4 linked regions of the Homo sapiens genome follow. The protein of the gene in region 3 interacts with the protein of the main gene of each other region in a pairwise test. Each region holds a gene or a part of one and is shown on either strand. Other genes may lie near its edges. The genes, in order: ZNF165, PLEKHG5, AHCYL1 and PPEF1.

What was found.
Region 1: the proteins of AHCYL1 (region 3) and ZNF165 interact in binary tests that used the Homo sapiens proteins (3 or more experiments, as listed by UniProt).
Region 2: the proteins of AHCYL1 (region 3) and PLEKHG5 interact in binary tests that used the Homo sapiens proteins (3 or more experiments, as listed by UniProt).
Region 4: the proteins of AHCYL1 (region 3) and PPEF1 interact in binary tests that used the Homo sapiens proteins (3 or more experiments, as listed by UniProt).

What each region holds. Positions count from the first base shown.
Region 1 is NC_000006.12:28,076,632-28,083,592, reverse strand, and holds the start of ZNF165 (zinc finger protein 165), read right to left. Parts: upstream 3,026-6,961; 5' UTR 2,623-3,025; exon of another isoform or gene 2,063-2,622; intron 1-2,062. UniProt on the Homo sapiens protein: May be involved in transcriptional regulation.
Region 2 is NC_000001.11:6,474,648-6,481,677, forward strand, and holds part of PLEKHG5 (pleckstrin homology domain-containing family G member 5), read right to left. Parts: intron 3,012-7,030; coding exon of another isoform or gene 2,925-3,011; coding exon 2,882-2,924; intron 1,390-2,881; coding exon 1,284-1,389; intron 876-1,283; coding exon 815-875; intron 492-814; coding exon 400-491; intron 1-399. UniProt on the Homo sapiens protein: Functions as a guanine exchange factor (GEF) for RAB26 and thus regulates autophagy of synaptic vesicles in axon terminal of motoneurons. Involved in the control of neuronal cell differentiation.
Region 3 is NC_000001.11:109,987,738-109,994,767, forward strand, and holds part of AHCYL1 (S-adenosylhomocysteine hydrolase-like protein 1), read left to right. Parts: intron 1-7,030. UniProt on the Homo sapiens protein: Multifaceted cellular regulator which coordinates several essential cellular functions including regulation of epithelial HCO3(-) and fluid secretion, mRNA processing and DNA replication.
Region 4 is NC_000023.11:18,822,627-18,828,429, reverse strand, and holds the end of PPEF1 (serine/threonine-protein phosphatase with EF-hands 1), read right to left. Parts: intron 4,508-5,803; coding exon 4,344-4,507; intron 2,680-4,343; coding exon 2,595-2,679; intron 1,155-2,594; coding exon 943-1,154; 3' UTR 513-942; downstream 1-512. UniProt on the Homo sapiens protein: May have a role in the recovery or adaptation response of photoreceptors. May have a role in development.

The sequences.
Region 1 (6,961 bases), on a different chromosome or scaffold from region 3:
TTGGCTAGGGTTGGACTGCATAGTCTAAGCTAATTCCAACTGGCTGTTTTAAAGAAAGCAGGGGTATGAACCACAGTGGCGGGGTGAGCAGTTTCAGTGGGAAGGACGGTTACAGAACAGGCGATTAAAGGTGATGCAGGTCAGAGCAGATGACCAGGGGTGACTCAGGACAGAGCAGGTGACCAGGGGAATAGATGTGAACTACTGATTGGAACTGGTGGAAAAGGTTGTTTACTGAAACTAGGGGCAAGGAGATGAGGTTAAACTTTAAAGTGGAGAACAAAGAACTGAACATACTGACATACTGATTCTTTGAAGAGAAATTTAGAACTCACTGTATTTAACATGGGGCTTAAATTGGACAATAAAGGATGAGAAAGATTCAGAAAGGAAAGGAACAGAGTAGAGGAAGTAGGAATGAGCAGCAGACTGATGGTGAGATCAACTTGCAGGGTGTGATGGCTGGAGTGACTAAGAATTCTACTGCCTCTGTTAAGAAATTGCTCAACTCTAGTCTGAGTTCTTACAATTCCTAACACATACACATATGAATATATAAGTCCTTGTATTATTTTTAGTTGTTTGGCTGTTTTTTTATCAACTGATTGATGTTCCATGAGGTTAAGGATCATGCATTATTAATTGTTCTTAAGGCTTCATATTTATGATTGAAAGGAAAAATTAGGAAAGTTTCAGATGACTTCTGTTTTGGATGATCTGTATTTAAGATGATAATAAGACATCTACTTGGAAAAATATTTCCAACAGAAACAATGATATTTCAATAATGGAAAAGAATTTGGAATGGGAAGACAGATTTTGACAAGTGTTGGGAACAGGCCCCCAAATCTGGCCATAAACTGGCCCCAAAACTGGCCATGAACAAAATCTCTGCAGCACTGTGACATGCTCATGATGGCCTTGACGCCCACGCTGGAAGGTTGTCAGTTTACTGGAATGAGGGCAAGGAACACCTGGCCCACCCAGGGCAGAAAACAATAGCATGAGCGATCTGTGCCTTAAGGACATGTTCATGCTGCAGATAACTAGCCAGAGCCCATCCCTTTATTTCGGCCCATCCCTTTATTTCCCGTAAGGAATACTTTCAGTAAATCTTATCACTGGCTTGCTGTCAATAAATAAGTGGGTAAATCTCTGTTCAAGGCTCTCAGCTCTGAAGGCTGTGAGACCCCTCATTTCCCACTCCACACTCTATATTTCTGTGTGTGTCTTTAATTCCTCTAGCGCCACTGGGTTAGGGTCTCCATGACCGAGCTTGTCTTGGCAGACAAGATTCATGAAAAGGGTAGTTGAAGATATGTAACAGTATTAATTCTCCAAGAGTATGAAATAAATATCACTAGGTTCAGACTGAACCTTGGAAAACAAACAATTTGAGTATAAGTAAGAACAAAATTTATCAATGATAAAGAAAAAAAAGGGGGGTTAGTTCCATGGTATATTAACCAGAGAGTCTCAATCCCTTATATTTTACTGGGCCATTTCTTTGATATTTCTGGTTATGTTTCCTAGATGCGCTAACCAAGTAGTGTCCTAATGCTTAATGAGCATGATCTCATTTACCATAGTAAGATGGGTGTAAAGTAGGCCCATATAATCCGAATGAAATTTCAATTATGCTGAGCAGCTGGTTCTATGACATGTTATCTCAGCTGACAGTACTATCTCCAGGTGTTTTATCACTTCTCATCTATTTAAAACCGAGTCCCCCTAAAGCTGGTAGCTTTAAACTAATAAATATTGATTGAGCATCTAGTGCCTTATAATATTGTGTTAGGAGGACTTACAAAAATGGGTAAGCAGATGTGTGAAGAAACGCTAGGAGAACAGAGAGGAACGAGTAATTAATTATGATGAGAAAGTTGGAGGTTAAAGAGCAGGGCTCCTGATGGATGAACATGTCTTGGTGGGCATGTTGCGGGAGGGGAAGACGGGTGAGAGTTTTGTTGGTGGAGAGGGAGACAGTCAGGGGAAATCCGGTAGAGACCACAAAGCAGAACAGAGACTTCAAGGGGCATGCTGGTAAAGGCTCCCATAGTACCTTGTGTTTCTCAAGGGCAGGGGGTCAGTGTTGGTTTAACTGCATCCTCGGCACACAGGAAATACTATTTACCGTGTCAATAAATTTCAGGACAAGCGGGGTTGTCCCCAAGTGTCCTACAAAACGGCGGTTACTCTTCCCAAGGGAAGCAGGGGATTGGGGATGGTCCTCGCAGCAGTTTCTTTTCGCAGACAATGGCAGATCTGAGACATGTGGCACCCCTCCCCGTTCCACCTGGCTGGAATGGGCAACTCCTCTTACCAGTGACCCCAAATTCAGGATCAGTAGGACAGCCCCCACCCCACGCCACCAAGCCCTCAGCGCTCCACTATGACGTCACGCGCGGCGGCGGTAACTATGGAGACCGCCAAACCCTCACTAAATGCGTAAGCGCGCCTGCGTTCCCAACGCCGAAGCTGGTTCTACCTTTCTCCGGGATTCCTCTGAGGGCCAAGGTCTGGTCACCCAGAGGCTGCTAATTTCAAAGGCAATATGAGAGGGACTGGATGTTTGGAGGGGGACACGGGGCTGGACATCTGGATCCCCAAACCCGGACTCACCTCTCGGACAGGGCTGATTCCGATCGGACACTTCCGGTGGAAGGACTGAGCGGCGCTACACTTCAAGAATTCCGTCCACAGGGACTTGTGAGTCTGCGCAGAAGGCGGGATGCCTTTGGACTACAATTCCAAGAATCCTTCCTGGGTCTCTTCGGGCGCAGACTTTTCGCCAAAGTCCTGAAGATCTCAGGGCTTGAAGGAGGGGGCATCTTTTTTCTCCATTGTAGTAGTGTGTCTTGCTAAATAACAGAAGGGACTCCTGAAAAGAAAATGACGTTGGCCGGGCGCGGTGGCTCACGCCTGCAGTCCCAGCACTTTGGGAGGCCGAGACGGGCGGATCACGAGGTCAGGAGATCGAGACTATCCTGGTTTACGCGGTGACACCCTGTGTCTACTAAAAATACAAAAAAAAAAAAAAAAAAAAAAATTGCCGGGCGTGGTGGCACGCGCCTGTAGTTCCAGGTGCTCGGGAGGCTGAGGCAGGAGAATCGCTTGAACCCGGGAGGCGGAGCTTGCAGTGAGCCGAGACCGCGCCACTGCACTCCAGCTTGGGTGACAGAGTGAGACTCAGTCTCAGAAAAAGAAGAAGAAGAAAAAGATACACACTCGAGCACACATTTTCTCAGCAAAGCAATTTACTTCTATAGAAGGGTGCGTCTCACGGATGGAGCAATGGCGAGAGCACACCTGAACAAGGGAGGGGAAGGGGTTCTTATCCCTGACGCAGGTAGTCCCTAGTGCTGTGTCGTTCCCCTACTGGCTAGGGTTGGACCGCACAGTCTAAGTTAATTCCGATTGGCTATTTTAAAGAGAGCAGGGGTATGAGCCGGAGTGGTAGGGTGAGCAGTTTCAGTGGGAAGGACGGTTACGGAACAGGTGACTAAAGGTGACTCAGGTCAGAGCAGGTGACCAGGGGTGACTCAGGACGGAGCAGGTCACCAGGGGAACAGATGTGAACTACTGATTAGAACTGGTGGAAAAGGTTGTTTACTGAAACTAGAGGCAAGGAGACGAGGAAAATGAGGAAGTTAAAGTTTAAAATGGAGAACAAAGAATTGAACATACTGACATACTGATTCTTTGAAGAGAAATTTAGAACTCACTGTATTTAACAAGGAGTTCAAGGCCAGCCTGGCCAACATGGTGAAACCCCGTCTGTACTAAAAATATAAAAATTAGCTGGGTGTGGTGGTGGGCGCCTGTAGTCCCAGCTACTTGGGAGGCTAAGACAGAAGAATCGCTTGAACCCAGGAGGTGAAGGTTGCAGTGAGCTGAGATCACGCCACTGCACTCCAGCCTGGGCGACAGAGCAAGGATCCATCTCAAAAAAAAAAAAAAAAGTTTATTCGGGAATAGGAAATTGCAATAAGAATAGACGTGCCAGAGTAAACTATGTTTCTATTCAGGGAGGTAAAGGAAGACAAAGGTTTTTAAAGGAAGAATGGGGAGGATTATTTAATTGTTTTGAAATCATTATTCTTGACTACAAAGATCGGTAACGAGGATGACACCAGTCTGAGGTTAGACAAACAGTTGCTGGGCGGATGTCCTTGCAGAGGTATTTTTGGTGTAAGATGGGTTTTGCAGTCATATGTGATAGTTTTCTTATGAGGCATACAAGCCTGAGAAGTGTCTCTTCATAGCCCTCCCTGGCTCTATCTGTCAGATTATTGCTTTTGTTTTTATTTTTTAACACTAGTGGGCCGGGCGTGTTGGCTCACTTTTCTAATTCCCCGCTTTGGGAGGCAAAGGCAGGAGGATTAATTGAACTCAGGAGTTCGAGACCAGCCTGGGCAACATAGTTGGGACCTCGTCTCTACAAAAATTAAAAAAAAAAAAAATTAGTCGGGGGTTGTGGAATGCACTTGTACTCCCAGCTACTCGGGAGGCTGAGGTGGGAGGATCGCCTGAGCCCAGGAGGTGGTGGCTGCAATAGTGAGCTGTGATTGCACCACTGCATTCTAGCCTGAGTGACTCCTGCCTCTATTTAAATCTCAGGTGGTGAAATTGAAGCCCACGCAGCAGGGTTGCAACTGAAACTTCATCTCCTCTGCAAAACCTTCCTGCATTCCCAGACAACTTTTCTTCTGAGGCCTTGTTTGATTCATCCCCTTACCCCAGTGGAACTCAGATATTCAAAATGGTATTAATTAAAACCACTGGCTGTCATTGGTCCATGCATGGCCTTAAAGTGTGAACATTTTTTAATCCATTACCTAGTCTATAAGAACTGTAGATTGACAACAACTTAGATTTAATACTACTCTTTTTCTAGTCCCTCTCTATACTACCTCTCATCCGAGGAAACACTATCACAAATTTTGTATTTGTTGTTCCCTTGCTTTTTAACAAGATGATTCTATTAGATATGTACTGTTTTGTCCCCCAAAAGTGGTGGCAGGGGAGTTCACACAAGGGAGTGCCCAAAACCGTCCTAGTTGGGGCTGGTTGGGATTCCAAAGAAAGGAGCACTATGTGCCAAGGTGATCTGTCCAAAGCATTTATTAAGGGAACTTACATAGTGTTGCAGGAATCCTCCCCATGGGTGGTGAGAGAAAAGGGACATTCTACCTAGATATGTCTGCAGTGAGGGGGTCAGGGTATGGAGTTTATATAAGGGTTTAAAGAATTTGGCTCAGGGCCAGAGCTAGTTTCTTTCACTGTTTTCAGTGACAACTTAGATACCTTTATCAGTGCCTGGGAATGTTCAAGACCCAAGTTTGGGTTCAAGCATGCTGGGAAAAAATCTGCAGCTGGCTAGGTCACAGAGAGGTCAAGGCACTCTGATTTTCAGTCACAGAATAGTCAAGGCTCTGTGATTTCCAGTCAGAGATCCTGCAATCCATTTTCCTGACTGGCTCTTACAATCTCACATGCCCATCTCTTCCTATATGTTCCCTGAGCTGGTCAGAAAGGGTGGGATCATCGGCAATTTCTTTCCCCTGGCTTTATGAAACACTGCAAACAAAACCTACACTAACAGTAAATACAAGTGCACCTGACAAAATCTAAAATCACATTTTCCAAAAGGCTTCCTAGCAGAGCTTTCCACCAAGGACCCCATCCTGGAAAACATGACTTTGTGTAGACCACCAGGCATACCCTATGTGGTCAGTAAGCTGTAATTGCTTTCGTGAGTGAAGGACGGATTGATTAACTTCAGCTTCTTTGTCTAGAATATACACACAATGTTCACTTTTGTAAAGGGCACAGGTTCCCCCTTGCACAGATGTCAGCATCTCTAGGGCCATTTGGTTTTGTAGACCACTTTTTTCACTGCAGCTGTTTCAATGTTCAAGGCCTCCATACCATGTTTGGTGTTGTTCAAAGCTGTGGAGACAAATCTCTGAAGGGCTTCCAGCTTCTACACAGTATCAGAAGAACCTCCTGGAGGCACAAATATAGTCAATAAGTAATCCCACCAAGAAAAAACAGGTCTACTCCACTGACCTCTCCAGATGGACTCATTGAGGGATACAGGAATGGTGCCAGAGATTCTGGAGTCATCCAAGCCACCCCAGGGGAAGCCAGGGCTGGAGGTTAGTAGCAGAGAGCCACTGGGTGCCATCTGGGGCAATTCAGTATATTCCTGGCCTACAAGACTGTTTGTGACAAATCAATCTGTGACCTTAAGGATAATGGTGTGTTGGCATTGGGCAATTGGGAGGAAATCTAGGTACTAGGAGAATACCTTAGGTATTACCTGAATGTCTTTAGAGTGATTATGTTGTTCCCAACAGATCTATGCAACTCGAGAGCATCCTTGCTGTAAGGATGAGCTAAAGAAAGCCATCCCACATTTGCCAGTATGATCTCCATTGCCAGAACCTGGTGCTCTTCAGGGCAGTTTTCACTTTGATGGTTGCCTCCTATGGGACATGTTTAGGGAAAAACTTAAATTTTGTCTGTAGTTGTTCAATGTCCTATCTCAATCACTCACATTTGCATGTGTGGTGTTAGAGGAATCTAGGGTACCTATTTATATGCATTGTCCGGTCATCCAAGTTTGTACAGAGATCCAGTCTTTACCCAGTAGTGGCTCAGTCCACCATGGAGTTCCTACATGGCTATTCAAGGGCATAAGACCAAACACTCAGCAGTTAGGTTGGCCATGCAGATGGGCTGTGTGATGGCCCCAGGCCAGGAAAACATTTTGGAAGGATTTCCAGGTGCCAGTGGGAATGATATAACAGCAAAAGGAGAAGGCAACTCAAGCTAACAGTGAAATGACAAAAACTTATTAGAAACACATAGGGCGTCTCCCACTCTCTGGCATAATAAAGCTGGTATTAACTCTGCCTTGCTACAATAATTTTGGTTTCCTTGGGAATCTTCCAGG
Region 2 (7,030 bases), about 100 Mb from region 3:
CCCCGCCCCCACGAGCCCCCGCCCCACCCACAGCCCCAGCTGCCCCCACCTTCCCAACGGAAAAGGGAAGCCCGCATGGGATCACACGCAGGTCCACAGACACCTGCCCGCAGAGGTGCTCACACAGGCGCATCTGCATACCACGGCAGACCTGTCACACGCCTGCCCACACGCAGGCCTGGCTCCTGCATACATGATTAAAATGCACAAGTACACAGACCCCACCGCACTCCCTCACACTGGCGTGCACACCAGCACGGGTCTGCCCACGCAGGGATGCGCTCGCTCACGGGCCACCACACAGACACACACGTCACACCTGCAGAGACCCGGAGCCTGCAACATGGGGCCACCCCTACTCCCAGTCCCACTTCCACCCTGAGCCCCATCAAGCCCTACCCCAGTGACTTCTTCTTCATGGCTGGGACGATCTCTGTCTCAATGTCCACATTCAGGTCAAATTTCAGAGTGAAGCATTCCTTGCTTGGGTCCTGGGAGGATGGTGGGGGTGGGGGCTGTGAGCTTCTCCTCACCGCCCTCATTCCCGCCCTCCTCCCCACCCTCCTTCCCACCCTCCTTCCCAACCCTCCTCCCCACCCTCCTTCCCACCCTCCTTCCCAACCCTCCTCCCCACCCTCCCCACCCTCCGGTCTCGGATGGGAACCCCAGCAAGAAAGGGAACCCCAGCGATCTCCCAGACCTCTGCACCCTGGGATGCAGACCTCCCCACCCCCATCCCGGAGGAAGGCCCAGGCTCGGGGAAGGGCGCAGGCTGTAGGGAACCCGCATCTGCCGGCTCTGGGGGGCTCCTCACATCCGTGTGTCTCCTCCTTGCTTTCTTCTTGGAGAGTTTCAGGCCTGTGCTCTTCCGGTCCCTGCAGGGAAGCGAGGAGGGCAGAGGCTGGAGGTGTGGGTGGCCCTCGCCAGCGTGGGCGGCGAGTGGGCCTGTGGCCTCCCCGCCCTTGGCTCACCCCAGGTGACAGGTAACCCGCGTGGATTCAACCCGGCCAGGCCCGCATAGGGCTGTGCGCCCTCTGGTGGCCAACACGGGAGTCACATCGAACGGTACCTGGTCTGGTGTGGGCTAGGATCCCAAGCACCCTGGAGGCTGGCCCAGGCTGGGTGGCCTCTTCCCGGAGTCAGGACAGCCACAGGCGTGGGAAGAGGTCTGCCCATCAGCCTTACTTGAGGAAGGCGCCAGAGCATCTGGTCCTGAATGTCTGATCTGAGACCCAGCCGTGGGGCCCTCCAGGTATCTCTCTGCCCACTCATCCCTCACCTACCCTTTGCCATCCACAGAGCTCTCCTCCTCCTCCTCCTCCAAGTCCACTGCGGGGCTGGTGCGCGGCGGGCATGACCGGGTGGACACGTTCCGGGCCAGCACAGAGCCTTGGGAGAAAGCAGGAGAGGGTTGTGCCTCCCCCGCCCCTCCTTAGCCTGCAGCATGGCTGCCTCCAGAGGGACCACAGCCTGTTACCCTGGAACCCCCAGATTAAAGGTAGCAAGGGCCCTTCAGTTCTGTGAGGAGAGGGGCTCAGTCATTGTTTTTTGTTTTTGTTTTGAGATAGGGTCTCACTCTGTCACCCAGGCTGGAGTGCAGTGGCATGATCTCGGCTCACTGCAACCTCCACCTCCTGGGTTCAAGCAATTCTCATGCTTCAGCCTCTTGAGTAGCTGGGATTGCAGGCGTGTGCCACCACACCCGGCTCATTTTTTTGTATTTTTAGTAATGACAGGGTTTCAACATGTTGGCCAGGCTGTTCTCAAACTCCTGACCTGAAGTGATCCACCCACCTCAGCCTCCCAAAGGGCTGGGATTACAGGTGTGAGCCACCTTGCCTGGCCTTAGTCATTGCTGTCTATCCCCACAGACCCAAAAGGACACAAAGGCCCTGGGATGACACCCATGGTGAAGCTCCACCCCAAAAACAAACTCACCTGTGGCCTCAGTTTACCCTTCTATAAAATAAGGATAAGGAAGCCTTGCCTCTGAGGTTATTACAGGAAGGGACCAAAGTCCATGGCTCTTTCTTCCAGGCCTCCCCTCCCCCATGCTGTGACCACACCTGAATTCCCAAGGGGCCCTGGCAGTGGGAGAGAGTCTTTTGTTTGTTTATTGTTTTTTAAGACAGGGTCTTGCTCTGTCGCTCAGGCTGGAGTGCAGTGGCACGATCAGGGCTCACTGGAGCCTCCATTGTCGGGGTTCAAGCGATCCTTCCACCTCAGCCTCCGAGCAGCTGGGACCACAAGTGTGTGCCACCACACCTGGCTAATTTTTGTATTTTTTGTATTCCAGACATGAGCCACCGTGCCCAACCAGAAGAATCCTTTTGTTCCTCTGATCAGCTGGGAAAGGACTCGGGGGTTGGCATTTCTCACCAGGCCTGGGTGCCTGCGAGCCACTCCTCCATAGGCAGTTGATGGTGGGCCTGAGCTGGGTCCCTGCTCAGCAAGAGGAATTTCTTATTTCCTGCTCCAAGTGCCTCCTGACCTGGCCACCCCCACTCCACACTGCCTCTGCTAGGCCCACAGCCTGGCTTGCAGGACTTGTCCAGAAGTCCCCTGCCCTGAGGATAGGCAGAACTAGAAAGAAAGGGGCCTTCTCTGTGTGGGCCACAGGCCAGGGGCAAAAGCAGCTGGGGGAGGTGAGAACCAGTGAGAGCACAGCACCAGATAGAGAAAGGCCTGCCTCTGGAAGGGGCACGCTCATGGACTTTCTCTCTTGCTAAAAAACATTTGGAACAAAAGGAACCGTAACATACTCGGGTTTCATTATTTACAGTCGACTTGTCCTTATGACGCCCTAGCACGTTTCCGACAGTTACTGAAACACTGACACAGGAGCTCTGGGGGCCGAGCTGCGGCTCCCGCCTGTGCTCACCTTGTGGGGGAAGGTCGAAGCGGACATGCCCATCATAATGCATGGTGCTGTGGAACTTGCTGTCACAGGCCTCGCAGAGGTTGAGGGGCCCCCGGCGGTGCAGCTGCTGGCAGTCGGCGTGGTGACATACCTGGGGTGGGGACAGAAGCCTTCAGGAGGTCCACGAGATCCACCACATCCCTCGACCCCGGCCCAGCGCTGCAGGGACTTAGAATGAACTGCCCTCCATCTCTCGATCCAGGGTGAGGAGACGCCCCCCAGCAGTCCCCCCTCTCCCACATCATCAAGTTTCCCCTCTGCTGGATCATTTCCCCCACTGCCACACCAACACGTGGTTATTTCTCCATCTTTTTCTTTTTTTTCTTTTTCTGAGACAGAGTCTCATTCTGTCACCCAGACTGGAGTGCAATGGCTTGATCTCGGCTCACTGCAACCTCCGCCTCCTGGTTTCACGCAATTCTCCTGCCTCAGCCTCCCCAGTAGCTGGGATTACAGGCGCACACCACCATGCCCAGCTAATTTTTTTTTTGTATTTTTAGTAGAGACAGGGTTTCACTGTGTTGGCCAGACTGGTCTCGAATTCCTGACCTCGTGAACAGCCCGCCTGGGCCTCCCAAAGTGCTGGGATTACAGGCGTGAGCCACCGCGCCCGGCTTCTCCATCTTTTTTTTTCTTTCTTTCTTTGAGACAGGGAGTGCAGTGGCACAATCATGGCTCACTGCAGCCTTGACCTCCCAGACTCACGTGATCCTCGAGCCTCAGCCTCCCGAGTAGCTTGGACTAGAAGCACACACCACCATAGGCGAGTGTTTGTATTTTTTGTAGAGACGGGGTTTCACCATGTTGCCCAGGCTGGTCTCAAACTCCTGGCCTCAAGTGATCCGCCCACCTTGGTCTCCCAAAATGCTGGCATTACAGGCATGAGCTGCCACGCCCAGCCTTATTTCTCCATTTTACAGAGGCCTCACCTCACCCTCCAGCTACGGCTGACTTTCTTTCTTTCCCTTCACAGCTAAACTCTGTAAACAGGTATCAGTATTCACGACTTCCTAGTTCTCTCCTCCCACTCTCTTTATTTTTCCCAAGTTTTGTTTTAAAATATTTCTTTTCTTTTTATTTTTTTAAATTTTTCTGAGAAGGGGTCTCGCTCTGTTGCCCAGGCTGGAGTGCAATGGCACGATCTCAGCTCACTGCATCCTCCGCCTCCCGGGTTCAAGTGATTCTCCTGCCTCAGCCTCCCAAGTAGCTGAGATTACAGGCACAATCCACCACGCCCGACTAATTTTTGTATTTTTAGTAGAGACGGAGTTTCACCATGTTGGCCAGGTTGGTATTGAACTCCTGGTCTCAGGTGATCCGCCTGCCTCGGCCTCCCAAAGTGCTGGGATTACAGGCGTGAGCCACCGCGCCCAGACTTGTTTTAAAATATTTCAAACCTACCAAAAATTATAAGAATAGCACATGACATCCACATGCCCTCTGGACTCCCCAAGTTGATATCTACCACATCTGCTTCTCTCCCATTCTCTTCTCGGCACCCCCCTCCCCTGGGGCAGAAATCATGCTGCTGCCTAAGAACAAAGACAGTTTTCCTACAAAACCCCATAGAATTGTCGCACTTGGGAAACTGAACCTTGATATATAGTCTATATTGACATTTTCCCAAGTGTCTAAATAACGTTCTTACAGATATACTTCCTCATATAGGAACTAATCAAGTTTCACACGTGGCATTTGGTTATGTCTGTTTATCCTTTTTTTTTTTTTTTTTTTTTTGAGACGGAGTCTCGCTCTGTCGCCCAGGCTGGAGTGCAGTGGCGCGATCTCGACTCACTGCAAGCTCCGCCTCCTCGGTTCACACCATTCTCCTGCCTCAGCCTCCTGAGTAGCTGGGACTACAGGCGCCCGCCACCACGCCCGGCTAATTTTTTGTATTTTTGGTAGAGATGGGGTTTCACCGTGTTAGCCAGGATGGTCTCGATCTCCTGACCTCGTGATCCGCCCACCTCGGCCTCCCAAAGTGCTGGGATTACACGCGTGAGCCACCGTGCCCAGCCTTGTTTTTTGTGGTCTTTTATTACATTGACTTTTTTTTTTTCTTCAAGACAGGGTCTCGCTCTGTAGCCCAGGCTGGAGTAGTATGGCATGATCAGCTCACTGCAACCTCAACCTCCCGGACTCAAGTAATCCTCCTGCCTTAGCCTCCTTAGTAGCTGGGAATACTAGGTGCATGCCACTACGCCCAACTAACTTTTTTATTTTTAGTAGTGACAGATCTCACTATGTTGCCCAGGCTAGTCTTGAACTCCTGGGCTCAAGCAATCTGCCCGCCTTGACCTCCCAAAGAGCTGGGATTATAGGCATGAGCCACTGTGCCTGGCTGACCTTGACATTTTGGAAGTCTTCGAGCCAGCAGCCTCGCACAGAGCTCCTCAATGTGGATCTCCCTGGTGGTCCTCAGAAAGTTTCAAACTGAGCGTTCAGGCGGGGACACCACAGAGCTGTGTGTTCTTGCTATTTGCCTGTAATGCTGGATCCTCTGGGGACCTCTGTACCTTGTAGAGTCCCTTTTTCCCCTATAATTAATAAGTAATCTGTGGCATGGCACTTTGAGATGTCTTGTTCCCCAGTAATCTCACTCAATCAGTTGAGGTCAGGAGTTCAAGACCAGCCTGGCCAACATGACAAAACCCCATCTCTACTAAAAATATAAAAAATTGCCAGGCACGGTGGCTCATGCCTGTAATCCTAGCACTTTGGGAGGCCGAGGCGGGTGGATTGCCTGAGCTCAGGAGTTCGATAGCAGCCTGGGCAACACGGTGAAACCCCGTCTCTACTAAAATACAAAAAAATTAGCCAGTCGTGGCAGCGTACGCCTGTAGTCCCAGCTACTCAGGAGGCTGAGGCAGGAGAATTGCTTGAACCGGGGGCAGAGGTTGCAGTGAGCCGAGATCACACCACTGCACTCCAGCCTGAGTGACAGAGCGAGACTTTGTCTCCAAAAAAAAAAAAATTAGCCAGGCATGGTGATGTGAGCTTGCGGTCCTAAGAGCTTTAGCATACATAGATGATTTTAACCTAAATCAATTATTTGATTCTTCTGATGGCTGCAAGGTGGGGGATTTCCTTTTTTTTTTTGAGACAGGGTCTCACTCTGTCACCCAATCTGGAGTGCAGTGCCGCAATCTCGGCTCACTGCAACCTCTACCTCCTGGGTTCAAGTGATTCTCCTGCCTCACCGTCCCAAGTAGCTGGGACTACAGGCATGTACCACCATACCCAGCTAATTTTTAGTAGAGATAGGATTTCGCCATGTTGCACAGCCTGGTCTCGAACTCCTGGGCTCAACTGATCCGCCCGCCTCAGCCTCCCAAAGTGCTGGAATTAGTGCTGGGATTACAGGTGTGAGCCACCATATCAGCTTGGGGTCACTCTTGACATTCTCTGTTATGCCCCCATCTGGTCAGCCCGAAAATCCCGCTGGCTCCACCTTTAGTATCTGTGGCCTCAACCCAGCCACAGCTCATAAGCGTGCCACTGCCCAGCCACCTTTTAGCTAGATGACAACAATGGCCTCAAAACTGGCCTCACTGCTACCCCCATCCCCCACAATATGTTGTCCATGTGCAGCTAGAGTGGGCCCTGTTCAAAGAGGAGTCCCACTGTATCTACTCAAAACCCTCCAAGGGTTCCCATCTCACTCTGAATAAAAGCCAAAAGGGGCCAGGAGCAGTGGCTATGCCTGTAATCCCAGCACTTTGGGAGGCCGAGGCGGGCGGGTCACCTGAGGTTGGGAGTTCGAGACCAGCCTGACCAACATGGAAGAAACCCTGTCTCTACTAAAAATACAAAATTAGCTGGGCATGGTGGCGCATGCCTGTAATCCCAGCTACGCGGGAGGCTGAAGCAGGAGAATCGCTTGAATACGGGAGGCAGAGGTTGCAGTGAGCCGAGATTGTGCCATCGCACTCCAGCCTGGGGCAAAACTCCGTCTCAAAATAAATAAATAAATAAATAAATAAATAAATAAATAAATATATAAGTAAATAAAAAGGCCAGGCGCGGTGGCTCATGCCTGTAATCCCCAGCACTTTGGGAGGCTGAGGCAGGCGGATCACAAGGTCAGGAGATCAAGACCATCCTGGCTAA
Region 3 (7,030 bases):
TCTATCACACTGCTATGAACAAAATAGGACTTGTTGGTTTGATTGAAGATTTGAGATGTCTGGGTGTCGAGAAGTCAACTAAAGGGATATGACCTTGAGCAAATTAATTAGCTTTTGTACCTGCATCTCCTCATCTGCCAAATAAGTGCCTATTTTTTTTGGAACAGGTGGAGATAGGGGCATGTTGGGGAGTTAAGATAGCAGTGTAATTTTTTAAAAGTCTATTCGTATATTTATATTCTTTCTTCAATGGGCATTTGAAGTGGCTTATAACACAGAACATATATGTGATATAAAAGGAAGTAAAAACTATAGAAAGAATGAAAAAAATATTGTTAACCTCGAGGGCTAAGATAGTTGATGAGGTTGATCACATGCAACTTGAAACTTTTAGCAGCCAGAGGATGAAAAGAATCATAGTTACAGTCTCCTTAGCAGGCATGGGAAATAATACATGTCAATTCCTCAAGGGGACGACTTTTCCTGACACAGAGTTCTAAAATAATTTTTCACGGGAATGTCTTAATAGCTGTAGTGTAATTCACATTGTAAGGCTTGTTCACGACTGTCACTGGTGATTTCAGATGGTATGGCTAGGAAAATTTGAGGTAAGAAAAGGAATCCTTGAGTTTTAAGAGTTAAGTGTACCACAACTGAAGAAGATCCTTGTTTAATGTTGGCAGTTATCGGTCAAACCAAGTAAGTAATCTAGTTCCCCATAACCACTGGTTATTTATCCCTCTTTTGCTGCTACTTTGTGTAACAGGAGTGGTAACTGTCCTTGGACCTTTGGAAATTGACACTGTGTCAAGTTGATTCTTTTTTCATAGTGTAAACCCAAATCTCCAACTTGTTGGAGAGCTCTTACAATAAGCATGTTTCTCCGGAAGGCCTTTCAGAACATTTGCTGTTCTCTGAACTTCTGAACATTAAAGGCACTCTCCAGAGTGATCCATTAAACATTTTGACCTAGGATCTGTGGAGTCAGACCCATCAGCAAAATGTGGGGAAGGAGAAGAGCACAGAAGAAACTACTTTTGTTTATAGGATATTCTTTATTTGAATGAAGCTATGTGCCACTAATTCATCAAAAGGGTCAGCTGAGACTTAGGAAGCACACCAAGTAGAGCCCCAATGGGTACAGCTTGGGTGTTAACCCGATAGGTAAAATCCAGGTTTCTCCTTTTGTCATCAGAGTTATCTTACGGTTAATTTTTGGTGCAGTTGTATAGAATTTACGCCAGGACTTGTCAGAATCACTGAAAGGAGATTTCATAGGTTGGCATTTCCTATCTTCACATCATTAGTATCTCTTGATTCTCCTTAGAGTGGCTGCTGTTGTAGTAGCAGTCTTTAAAACAGGAGTTGGGGTGTAAGAAGATCCTCTTTTTAAGATTTCTCCGCAGGTATTGATTACATCTCTTTTTCTTGTTTGGTTTAGTTAGTTACACTCTAGTTTCCAAATTACTTTGTTCCAAGTTTCTTTAGACATTTAGCTTGTAACAGAAATCTGTTAGAAGATTTCTAGATCAGTAGTTGTCTAGATCTTTTGCTGCCAAGGTTACAAATGTATACCTTTTCTTTTATCAGGAGTGTGTCATTTGGATCCAGAGTGTTTTACCCAATATAATATTCTTTTTTAAAATTTATTTTTATTTTTTATAGAGATGGGGAAATCCCTGTGTTGCCCAGGCTTGTCTTGAACTCCTGGGCTCAAGCGATCTTCCCACCTCAGCCTCCCGAAGTGCTGGGATTACAGGCAAGAGCCACCACGCCCACCCCAATATAGTATTCTTGGAAAGTTGTCTATAAAGGATATTTTGATACATGGAATCATGCAGGTCTTTAGTTGCCTGTGACTCCTAGCAAGTGTACTCTGCCACTCCGAGTAGTTAATGATCTGTAAATAAGCACTTTAATGCCCTCTTGGGGTTGTTTTAAAGGAACTGGCGAATAAAGGAGAATCATTTATACGTACCTGTTTCTCAAGTTTGGGAATGTGAGTATTGCATTTTTATAAAGAATGTCAACCCTGATTATACTGGATACATTTTATTATAATTTAGAACTGAATAGTAATTCAGAACACATGCTAATGAGGTGCGTCAGAAGCATTCCTGTCATGTGAAGGGCAACCTACGTGCATAGACCAGAATTTTTTCTAGCCTGAAATCTGAGAATCCCCAGTTGAAGACAAATTCTTACCACAAATTTTCCTTTTGATTATTGTCAATACTATCAGTGCCTATTGTGTAGTAAGCAGTTAATAAAAATTCACACAGAATTGCAGTTGCCTTTCCTTTTCTGATTCCATATTTTCCTTTGACTCACTCAAGTAGTTCTTTTGTCCCACTGTTGCTTGGCTGTTACATAAGACGCCTTTAACTTCCCGTTTCTGTTCCTAAAACTGTGAGTAGTAGTACAACATAAGGTAAGCACTGATTTTTGGAGTCAGTTTTACCTTTAGTCTCTACCATCTAATAGTTGTGGGACATTCAACAAGTGACGTCCTTTTCTCATCTGTAAAATGGGGAACAATGATAGTGCTATCTATATACATGGTTGAGAGGGTTAGCATTTAGTAAATAGTAATTAGTGGGGTTTTTTTGTACCTAGAGTGACCATATATCCTGGTTTGCCTGGCGCAATTCTGGTTTATACCTGTTATCCTAGCATGCAGTCCAAGGAGTGCCTCCGTAGCTCTGAAAGTTACCCTGGTTTATGTGGCCACCCTATTTATAACTCTCTGGATGATGCAACATGATAGTGCAAATGAGAGCCTAATTTTGAAATGTTAAAGAGCCAAAACAAAGAAGTTTCTATTGGAATGTCTTTTCAATAAGAAAATTTTTTTCTGACAAAAATGTTATTTTATATAGAGCTTACAGCTACTGAACCCCAAAACATTTTGTTAACTACAGGGGTGGGGTGTGTAGACAGAGATCTTAGAGCTTTTGATGGAGTTGAGATGTCCTCTACCTTACCATTCCCCATTCATCCCCCGTAATACATAATGCACTCATAGAATGTGGGTATTTGTCAGACACTGGGCCAGTCTCAGTCCAGGAGTTTATTTCCTTAAACTTCAGGTGTTTGGGGTTTTCCCAAACTAGAATCCTTGAATTACATGAAATAATTGCAAAGACTTCTGAACTGTGACTTTATCATTTTAGGTATGTACTCCAGCACCCCCGCCCCCATCCCTGCAGGTACTGTTTTCTCATTGCTCTTAACAGCCTGCTTCTAATTATGTATAACTGATTTTCTCCTGTAGAAATGTGTGGCCTTTGCTGCATGCCACTCATAGAACTAGAGTGGAGCATCCATGCCTTTGTTGAGAGACTCAGACTGCTTTCATTTTTGTTTCTATCTCTGTTTAATTTTTCTAAAGGATTTAGCCTGGTGCCTTAATCTCAGAATGTAGATAATGATGGATACTGCTTATCAGTATACATTGGGGGGCTTAATCATTCACTACCCAAATGGAACACAAAGTAAAAAGTTTAATGAACTATTGGTAAAAGGTAGTATTTGGAAATCTGGGGTAGAGATTGGAAAAGTACTTTTGAGAACCACAGGTACAAGACTCTCCAAGCATGCTCCTGCTTCTTACCATAAAAGCCCCAACGCCTCCGCTGATGTGCCTGTGTACTTAACCTGTGGGGCTTAATGGGCTTAACATGTTCTTCTCTACCAGCCCAAGCCAGTTCACTTGTTTTAAAGTGGACAGCCTGTACTCAGTTGTGTGATGGAAATGGGGCATATTAAACAGGAGGGGTCTGGGACTGCTCTCTGTTCCATGCTGTTCATCTTGGACCTGCCTCAGGCTTACTTCTTCACAATTTGAGGAACTGCTCAGCAAGAGCACACCCTATTGTTGACATGTTTTTCTTTTCTCTCCGGAACCTGCGAGTGTACGATGGCATTAGTGGAATCCCTCTGAGCCTGTGTGCCAAGGAAAATGCTAATGTGCTGATCCACAATGATGTGTGGCTCAGTGTGAACTACGTAGTAAATTTGTGAGTGACAGAGTAAAGGGGCAAGAGGCTGGAGGAGATGAGTATAACCATCTTTCATTCACTTAGACTTCCTGAATGAAGCCGTTCATACTGAGTTTTGAGCAATGAGAGGATTTTGGAAGTTCTGTTTTTAATAAATGGCTCCAACTCTTCTAGTACTTACTAATTGTATTAAGGTGAACCTTTGGGACATAGGTTTCCATATGCTTAATGGGAAATACTTTGTCCCTTTTCCCCCAAGACTGGCTTGACCTCACGTCAAGACCTCACGTCAAAGCTTTTGGGCCATGACCTGTTTCCTTTGTGGTTCCAGAAATCTGGGGGCGGGGGGAAGAAAAGAGAGAGACCTACCATAAAAGTTAATAGGACAGGCTGGGCCCAGTGGCTCACGCCTGTAATCCCAGCACTTTGGGAGGCCGAGGCAGGAGGATCACAAGGTCAGGAGATCGAGACCATCATGGCCAACATGGTGAAACCCCATCTCTACTAAAAACACAAAAAAAATTAGCTGGGTGTGGCAGCACACACCTGTAGTCCCAGCTACCCGGGAGGCTGAGGCAGGAGAATCGCTTGAACCCAGGAGGTGGAGGTTGCAGTGAGCCAAGATCGCACCACTGTACTCCAGCCTGGCAACAGAGCAAGACTCCGTCTCAAAAAAAAAAAAAAAAAAAAAAGTTAAAGGACAGAGATTCTGATCTGCCCTCTTTGACCAGACCCACCCCTTCTCCTTTCTCAAAGACTTTAAGGAGAAGACTTCAGGTTCTCATGACTGTTAGCTTTATTTTGGGGATGTAGAAAATAGAGATTCACTTTGAATTTTCAAAATGCACATCCCCATCTTTGTTTCTAATTTTAGAAGAGAGGTCAGTAAGTAGACAGATTTGTGTAGAAGATAGAGAATTGGAATATGCTTCTCTTTTGCCTATTTGAGGGAATGCTCTTGAGAATCACTGGATTAGAGACTGTAGAACAATGGTTCTTACTCTTTGAGTCAGAGGTCCTTTTAAGAGTTTAATGAAAATCCTGGTTCTTTCCTCAGGAAAATTCAGGAGCACAAAAATATGCGTATTCTGTTAGAGGATTTATGGGACTTCTGAAACTCATGGATCCTGGGTTTTAAAGTCCTGATGTGGAAGGCCAGGCCTCCAAGCCACAGCATCTCTTTTCATTACAAGTCCACAAACTGCTAAGAGATTTAAGTTTCCAGCCTGCAGTTTGTCCTTATGGCTTGGAACAAAGCTGAGGTTGTTGGCATTGTCAGCTCCCTCTTTGGGATGCTCCTCAGCTTCCCAAAAGACTCATTATAAGTGCCTTGAGAGTTCAGCTCAGGAACTTAACACACATTCGAACCGGCATTTCGGCCACTTTGGGGGAATTTTTGGTATTATCTCAACTCTACTGCTCTTCATATGAAATGCAGATGCCCCTGAAGCTCCAGAGCTGATTCCGTAGGAGTGTTTGAAATAGTAGCTCACATAGTAGATTATCAAAACTAAACAAAATAATTTGCTTCTGTATGTCTCTCAAAAATAGGTTGGATTTCAATGTAGTACTTCTCAAACTATTATATTTTAAGGACTGACCTGATATTTGAATTTTACTCATCATTTGACTTTTCTAGATGGAATATGTTGAGGGCAAAGACCGTATCTCACACATATTTATATAGTACCTGGCACATAATACTGTCAATAAATGCTTATTGAATAAAATAATGTGAGATAATCATTCCTTGGAGAAAGTAAGTTGGACTTATGTGGTGGCTTTGACTCACTTTCCCTTTCAGTTGGCTGGGGTGATTTTTCTAACTTAGAGCCCTCTCACATAGGTATAAGGAAGTACCAAGAACTGCAGGTGAGAAATTGATGAGAATTTCCAACTTAATAGATCCCTTTATAAAGCCAGAAATAGGAGGTCAGGGAGAAGACATCTGAATATATGCCTCCAGCTTCTTAGCCCAGTGGCAGTGGGCATAGGGATATCCTTAGACAATAATGGGGAAGGTAACTTGAATTTCTCACCATTGAAACAACTTTTAAACCCTTAGCATTAGGGAGACTCTGTCCAAAGTTGAAACTGGTATCCTGGTTTATACATGCTCTTGATTTAAAGAACAGGGAGGCTTTCACATAGGGTATTTGAGGTTTGGGGATTAGCGATGAGTTGAATAGTTTGATTTTGGAAAGTACATTGGAACTCTGAAAGTAATAAACAACAGCTCCGTCCGGCAGTGATGAGCAAACTTCTGGTTCTTACTCTGCAACCCTGGCTGCCCCTTCTGAGTCAAAGGCTGAGTTTGATGCTCAAAAGCTATACATGCCCTTCTCTCTTTGAAACACACCTTCTTTAGAATTACAGTCTTCTGGGAACTGGGCCAATGCTTATCCTAGCCAGAAGCTCAGGCTCTAGTTGGCACTACATTTTGTGTGTTCTGTTTCACTTCAAGTGTATAACTTAGGCAAGATTCAGGGGAAAAGGAGACCTTCAGAATTTTGCTATTTTGTGTTGTTTGTTTGTTTGTTTGAGATGGATTTTTGCTCTTGTCGCCCAGGCTGGAGTGTGATGGCACGATCTCGGCTCACTGCAATCTCCACCTCCCGGGTTCAAACAGTTCTCCTGCCTCAGCCTCCCAAGTAGCTGGGATTACAGGCATGTGCCACCACACCTGGCTAAATTTTTTTTGGTGTTTTTTTTGTTTTTGTTTTTGTTTTTAGTAGAGATGGGATTTCATCATGTTGGTTAGGGTGGTCTCGAACTCCTGACCTCAGGTGATCCACCCGCCATGGCCTCCCAAAGTGTTGGGATTACAGGCATGAGCCACTGCACCCGGCAAATTTTGCTATTTTGGAAGTTGAAATAGGTGCTTCCTAGAGATAGCAGATGTATCCAGTTGCTTTGGTAACTAATTCAGTTTCTTATGGGTGGCCAGGTGGTATCCCACTTATTATTCAATACTTGAGGGTTCAGTGCCCAGCTTCTGAGCACCAGCTTTCTTAGCAAGCAAGACATGA
Region 4 (5,803 bases), on a different chromosome or scaffold from region 3:
GCAGAACCAAAGGACAAAAAGCAGACTGGTTGTTTCAAAGTTACCTTCCTTGTAAGACAGCAGGGAAATAACAATAAACAAATAATTGATTGGTTAACATCAGGTTATTTTTGTTGTAAGGCAGAGGGAACTTCATTATTATGCCAATTGAAGCTGGCCGGAGATGACACAGGACCTCAGCATGGGTGACCCCATTTTGACTTTTAGTCTAGTCTGTTGGGGCCTGGTGAAGGAGCTTAGTCCAAAACAATGGGCTCCTACAATTTTCATTTAACAGTATGCATAAGCAAGGCCCCATCTTACCAATGAAGGTGTCAAACCATATTAATTATAGGGCTCAATCCAAGTGTATTCACTTTGTATCTCCAACATACACACACACACAAATACGCTTTTTCAAACAATACACTCCCACAGATTCCCCCCAAGAATCCAATATGGTTCTCATCCCTGAAGGGTGGATCCCTTAATTGAGGATCACTGGCTTATAAAATCTCCAAAGAAGATCACAGTTTAAAGATGGAAAGACTTTATTCCATGAATAACCTGGTATTCCTCCTGTCTCCCTCAGTCACTCACAGATGTCAAGCTTAGTAGTTTTCTCTTGTGCTGTATGAGTTCCTTTCAGGATGTTTTCAAACCGCTCTGGCCTCCTGGTTAGGTGGCACTCACGACAACACCACTAGGTCCAACCCAGTTTCTCACTGGCAATATGTAGGTACTAATGCTGAAACCAAATCCTATTACTGACATTTAACCTAATCTTACCAATAACAGCTTGCTAGGGACTTCCAAAACCCATACTATGCATCTGTTTGTGGGATGAATTGGGATCTGCTTTTCTCTGCTACTGACTATGAATTTCAGGGGTGTTGGAAAGGACTGTACTTGTGATTTGGGCCTAGCTGTTTCAGGGAGCCTGAGGGAAGCTCTCATTTGTGTTTAGCCAAGGTTGGTGACATCAGGTTTCATCAAGTCTTCATATCTATGCACTACATAGAAAGCCTTTAAAAACTCATTAAAGTCAATGCTTCCATCTTTGTTCAAGTCCATTATGTTGGCAAGCTTATTGACTTGGGAATCATCAATGTGAACATTGTAGTGAGAACTAAAAAGTTTCCACATGGCACGAAATTCTTCCACGGAGATCAGGCCTAAAAGAATATAGGAGAAGGTTGTGAGTGTTCATTTTAAGACCCACCTAAGGCAAGGGTTGGGGAACCCACACTGATTAAATAGCCCCAGTTAGAAACTCACTAAACTGCCTAATCATGAAGATACTGAAGGATATGGAAGAGTAAGATCATAAATGTAAGAAACAATATCTCACTTTCAACTACCAAGGGATCCTGAACTTATTCTAAAGCCAGAATGAGCAAACAGTGAAGAAATGGGGACGGGGTTGTGGACTATGGGACTAAATGTGGTATAGAAATTACAAGACCTAAAATAGAAAGGTGAGGTGCATGGAAGGAGGGCAGAGAGGAGGATGACATCAAAGCAGAGGGAGAAGATACGGTGGGAGTCAATAAGAGGATTACAAACAATGGTGCTGCCTTTTTCACAGGCAATCATTTACTTTAATGTGTTGATCATTGATTTTTTTTTTTTTTCGGTGTTCAAAGGTCTCTGCATTAGGGGATTATCTGATGAGTTTTTAAAAATTTGAAAATAAGTAATTGTGCATCAAAGCTAAAGGCAGAAGGCCGGGCGCAGTGGCTCACGCCTGTAATCCCAGCACTTTGGGAGGCTGAGGTGGGCAGGTCATCTGAGGTCGGGAGTTCGAGACCAGCCTGACCAACATGGAGAACCCCATCTCTACTAAAAATAAAAATTATCAGGGTGTGGTGGCGCATGCCTGTAATCCCAGCTACTCAGGAGGCTGAGGCAGGAGAATTGCTTGAACCCGGGAGGCAGAGGTTGTGGTGAGCTGAGATCCCGCCATTGCACTCCAGCCTGGGCAACAAGAGCAAAACTCTGTCGCAAAAAAAAAAAAAAAAAAAAAAAAAAAAGCAGAAAATGACTTTTCATAGCCCTTACTCCCCAAAACAGAATCAGATTTCTAGGAATGATTTTTATGGCCATGAGTAACTAAGATACTGAAATGGATAGTAAATCATCTTTTCATTTGTGCTGGTGATTTATAAAAAGTTATTTCAGTTTGACTGATGGCTACCTAGGCTTCTGTAGGACTCTATGGTCTTGAATACAGAGTCTGCAGCCAAACTGAAATAACAATAATATTAAATGAGTTTCTTTTTCCCCTCAAGTTTCATCATGTTAGATGAAGAACAAAATAGATAAAATCAGAGTTCTGATTTCAGAGAACCAGATTAGCCTTTGCTTTCTACTACTGCTACCCCATTTTGACTTTTAGTCTAGTCTGTTGGGGCCTGGTGAAGGAGCTTAGTCCAAAACAATGGGCTCCTACAATTTTCATTTAACAGTATGCATAAGCAAGGCCTCCATCTTACCAATGAAGGTGTCAAACCATATTAATTATAGGGCTCAATCAAAGTGTACTCATTTTGTATCCCCAACATACACACACACATACACTTTTTAAATGGACTCATCCAAGTTCATTTATTTACCTGAGTGATCAGTGTCAATGGCATTAAATATGATTTCCAGGTCAGATCTGTATCTGTACAGAGTTTCAACTAGAGTAGAATGAGCCTAAAATAAAGATTTTCTAAGTGTTAGAACATATTGAATTCATGACACTGATCGCTTTTAGCAAATGTAACAAACAGAAAACATCATCAACAATTGAAATGATGTGATTTAGACAGAAATCTGAGAAGGCCAGACTTCCCTTGGAGGCCCCACCCTCTTCATTCAGTCTGTGATCCTCAGGGGACAGGGCCAAAATGAATAAGGCAGCAGTAACTAACACAGCCACCATTTACAGAGAACTTTATGTGGATTATTTCATTCGGTCCTCTACAACAAGAATGAACAAGAACAGAACTATTATTATGTCCATTTTACAAATTTGAAAACAGGGAGATAAAGGAACTTTCCCAAGGGTCACAGAGCTGGTGAGTGGGATTTAAATCTCGGCTGCCTGAAGCCAAGGCCTGTGATCTTAGTCACCATGGTAAACTGCCTCTGAAGTGACGTCAAAAGCCTCCTTCCTGGGGATACTTTAGTCTCTAACCTACCTTTACTTCCCTTCTCTCTGCTCTTAACGTCTCATCTTCACTGCAAATGATCACCCAAGTCCTAGCTCCAACCAGCTCCTTTTCAGCTCAATGTCATATTTAACTGCTGATGAATTGTTAACTAATAAGTATGGGGATCTGATAAATCTCCCTGATATTCACATTCTAAGAAAAGATTTCTACATTTCAAAACTCTTTCAGACATATTCTGGGTCATGTCAGCAAGTCTGTACACTCAGGCTTAACAAGCAATACATTAAGTATTAGAAATGGTATGTTGTATAAAAGCATGGATGTCAGGCCAGGCACAGGGGCTCATGCCTGTAATCCCAGCACTTTGGGAGGCCGAGGTGGGCAGATCACTTGAGGTCAAGAGTTCAAGACCAGCCTGGTCAACATGGTGAAACCCCATCTCCACTAAAAATATAAAAATTAGCTGGGTATGGTGGCAGGCGCCTGTAATCTCAGCTACTTGGGAAGCTGAGACAGGAGAGTCACTTGAGCGTGGCAGGCAGAGGTTGCAGTGAGCCGAGACTGCACCACTGCACTCCAGCCTGGGCAACAGAGCGAGACTCCACCTCAAAAAACAAACAAAAAGCATGGATGTCATATCTCCCCTTCTGCTAGACAGCACTTACAAAAAAAAATCCAGTATTTGATGTGGACTTGCTTGTGGAAGCTTTTTCTTTTTTCTTTTTGCTTATCCTGGGAACACACAAATTTGCTGAACAGACCACAGTGTACCTGGGAGATTCCCCTTCGGCTTTTCCTAAGACTGCCACTCCATCTATTAGATTATCCCACTCCCAGCTTCTCTTTTTTTGAGATGGAGTCTCGCTCTGTCACCCAGGCTGGAGTGCAATGGTGCGATCCTGGCTCGCTGCAACCTCCGCCTCCTGGGTTCAAGCAATTCTCCTGCCTCAGCCTCTTGAGTAGCTGGGATTACAGGTGGGCACGACCACACCCGGCTGATTTTTGTATTTTTGGTAGAGACGGGGCTTCACCATGTTGGTCAGGCTGGTCTCGAACTCCTGACCTCGGGATCTGCCCGCCTTGGCCTCCGAAAGTGCTGGGATTACAGGCGTGAGCCACTGTGCCCGGCCACTCCCAGCTTTTCAAAGGACTAAGTTATGTTTCACCCTGGCTAGGTTTTAGCTGGGGCTATGTTTCACTTGCCTCTTGTACAGGTTTTTCAATGCGGATATTCTGGAAGCTGGACATGTATTCAACGTTTCCATTTTGGTCTATGTTTACCAGATTCGAACTGAGGGATCTCCATGGTAAGTTCAGCCCCAAAATGTTCTCCATGCAAAAAGCCCACTGGCTCACAGAAAGTTTTCCTAACAACAACAATAACAAAGCCCAAATGATTTGTTAAAATATGATTTTAAAGAATGCAACCTCCTTGGGAGAGCCAGGGCAGCATGGGGCCAGCTGCTCTCCCTCATAATTTATCCTCCCAGGCCCTGCAGCCCTGAAGGAGAACTAACTCAAGGATATCTTCAGTGTTCCACAGATCGTGTCCTTCCTGTCACCTGTAAGAAATCAGACTTCACGTGTTAGATTTTTTTTTTCCTTTTTTTTGATTAACAAAGTAAGGTATGCTTACTTATTTATTTATTTATTTTTTTTTTTGAGAAGGAGTCTGGCTCTTTTCACCCAGGCTGGAGTGCAGTGGTGCCATCTGAGCTCACTGCAACCTCCGCCTCCTGGGTTCAAGTGATTCTCCTGCCTCAGCCTCCCAAGTATCTGGGATTACAGGTGTACGCCACCATACCCGGCTAATTTTTTTGTACTTTTAGTAGAGATAGAGTTTCACCATGTTGGCCAGGCTGGTCTTGAACTCCTGACCTCAAGTCATCTGCCCACCTCAGCCTCCCAAAGTGCTGGGATTACAGGTGTGAGCCACCATGCGCGGCCTAGGTTTGCTTATTATAGAAGATTTGAAAAACACAAAAGAATACAAAGAATAAAAGATGTATTATTCACCTGTCATTTCACAACTAATATTCTTTTCCTCCTAATATATGTAATTTTTCAAAACACAAATATCTTTATTACATATAGGCTGTTTCTATTTTTATAGGGATATCCATTTGGCCCAGCATCGTTTATTGAAAAGACTCCTTTGCCCACTGCTCAGCAGTGGGACCTTCAAGTGTCTATATATGCATGAATCTGTTTCAGGATTCTCTACTTGCTTCCATTGTCTATATGGGTATTCTTGTGCCAATTGCATACCATTCTAATTACTGTACTTTTATAATAGATCTTGATATATAATAGGGAAAGTCTTCCCACCTTGTTCTTTTTCTTCAGGAACATCTTGGCTATTTGGGGCCTTTTGTAATTCCACATGACTTTTAGATACAGATTCTCAAGATCTACTGAAAAATCCCCACCTTGGGATTTTGACTGAGATTGCATTGAAACTATAGCTCAATTTGGGAGGAATTTGTATCTTGACAACTTCAACCCTTATAGTCCTTGAACACAGTAATACCCACCCATTTATTTCAGTCCCCTTTATCTTAATAATATCTTAGAAATCTCATACCTCCCCCGTCTCTACTAAAAATACAAAAAATTAGCCAGGCATGGTGGCGGGCGCCTGTAGTCCCAGCTACTTGGGAGGC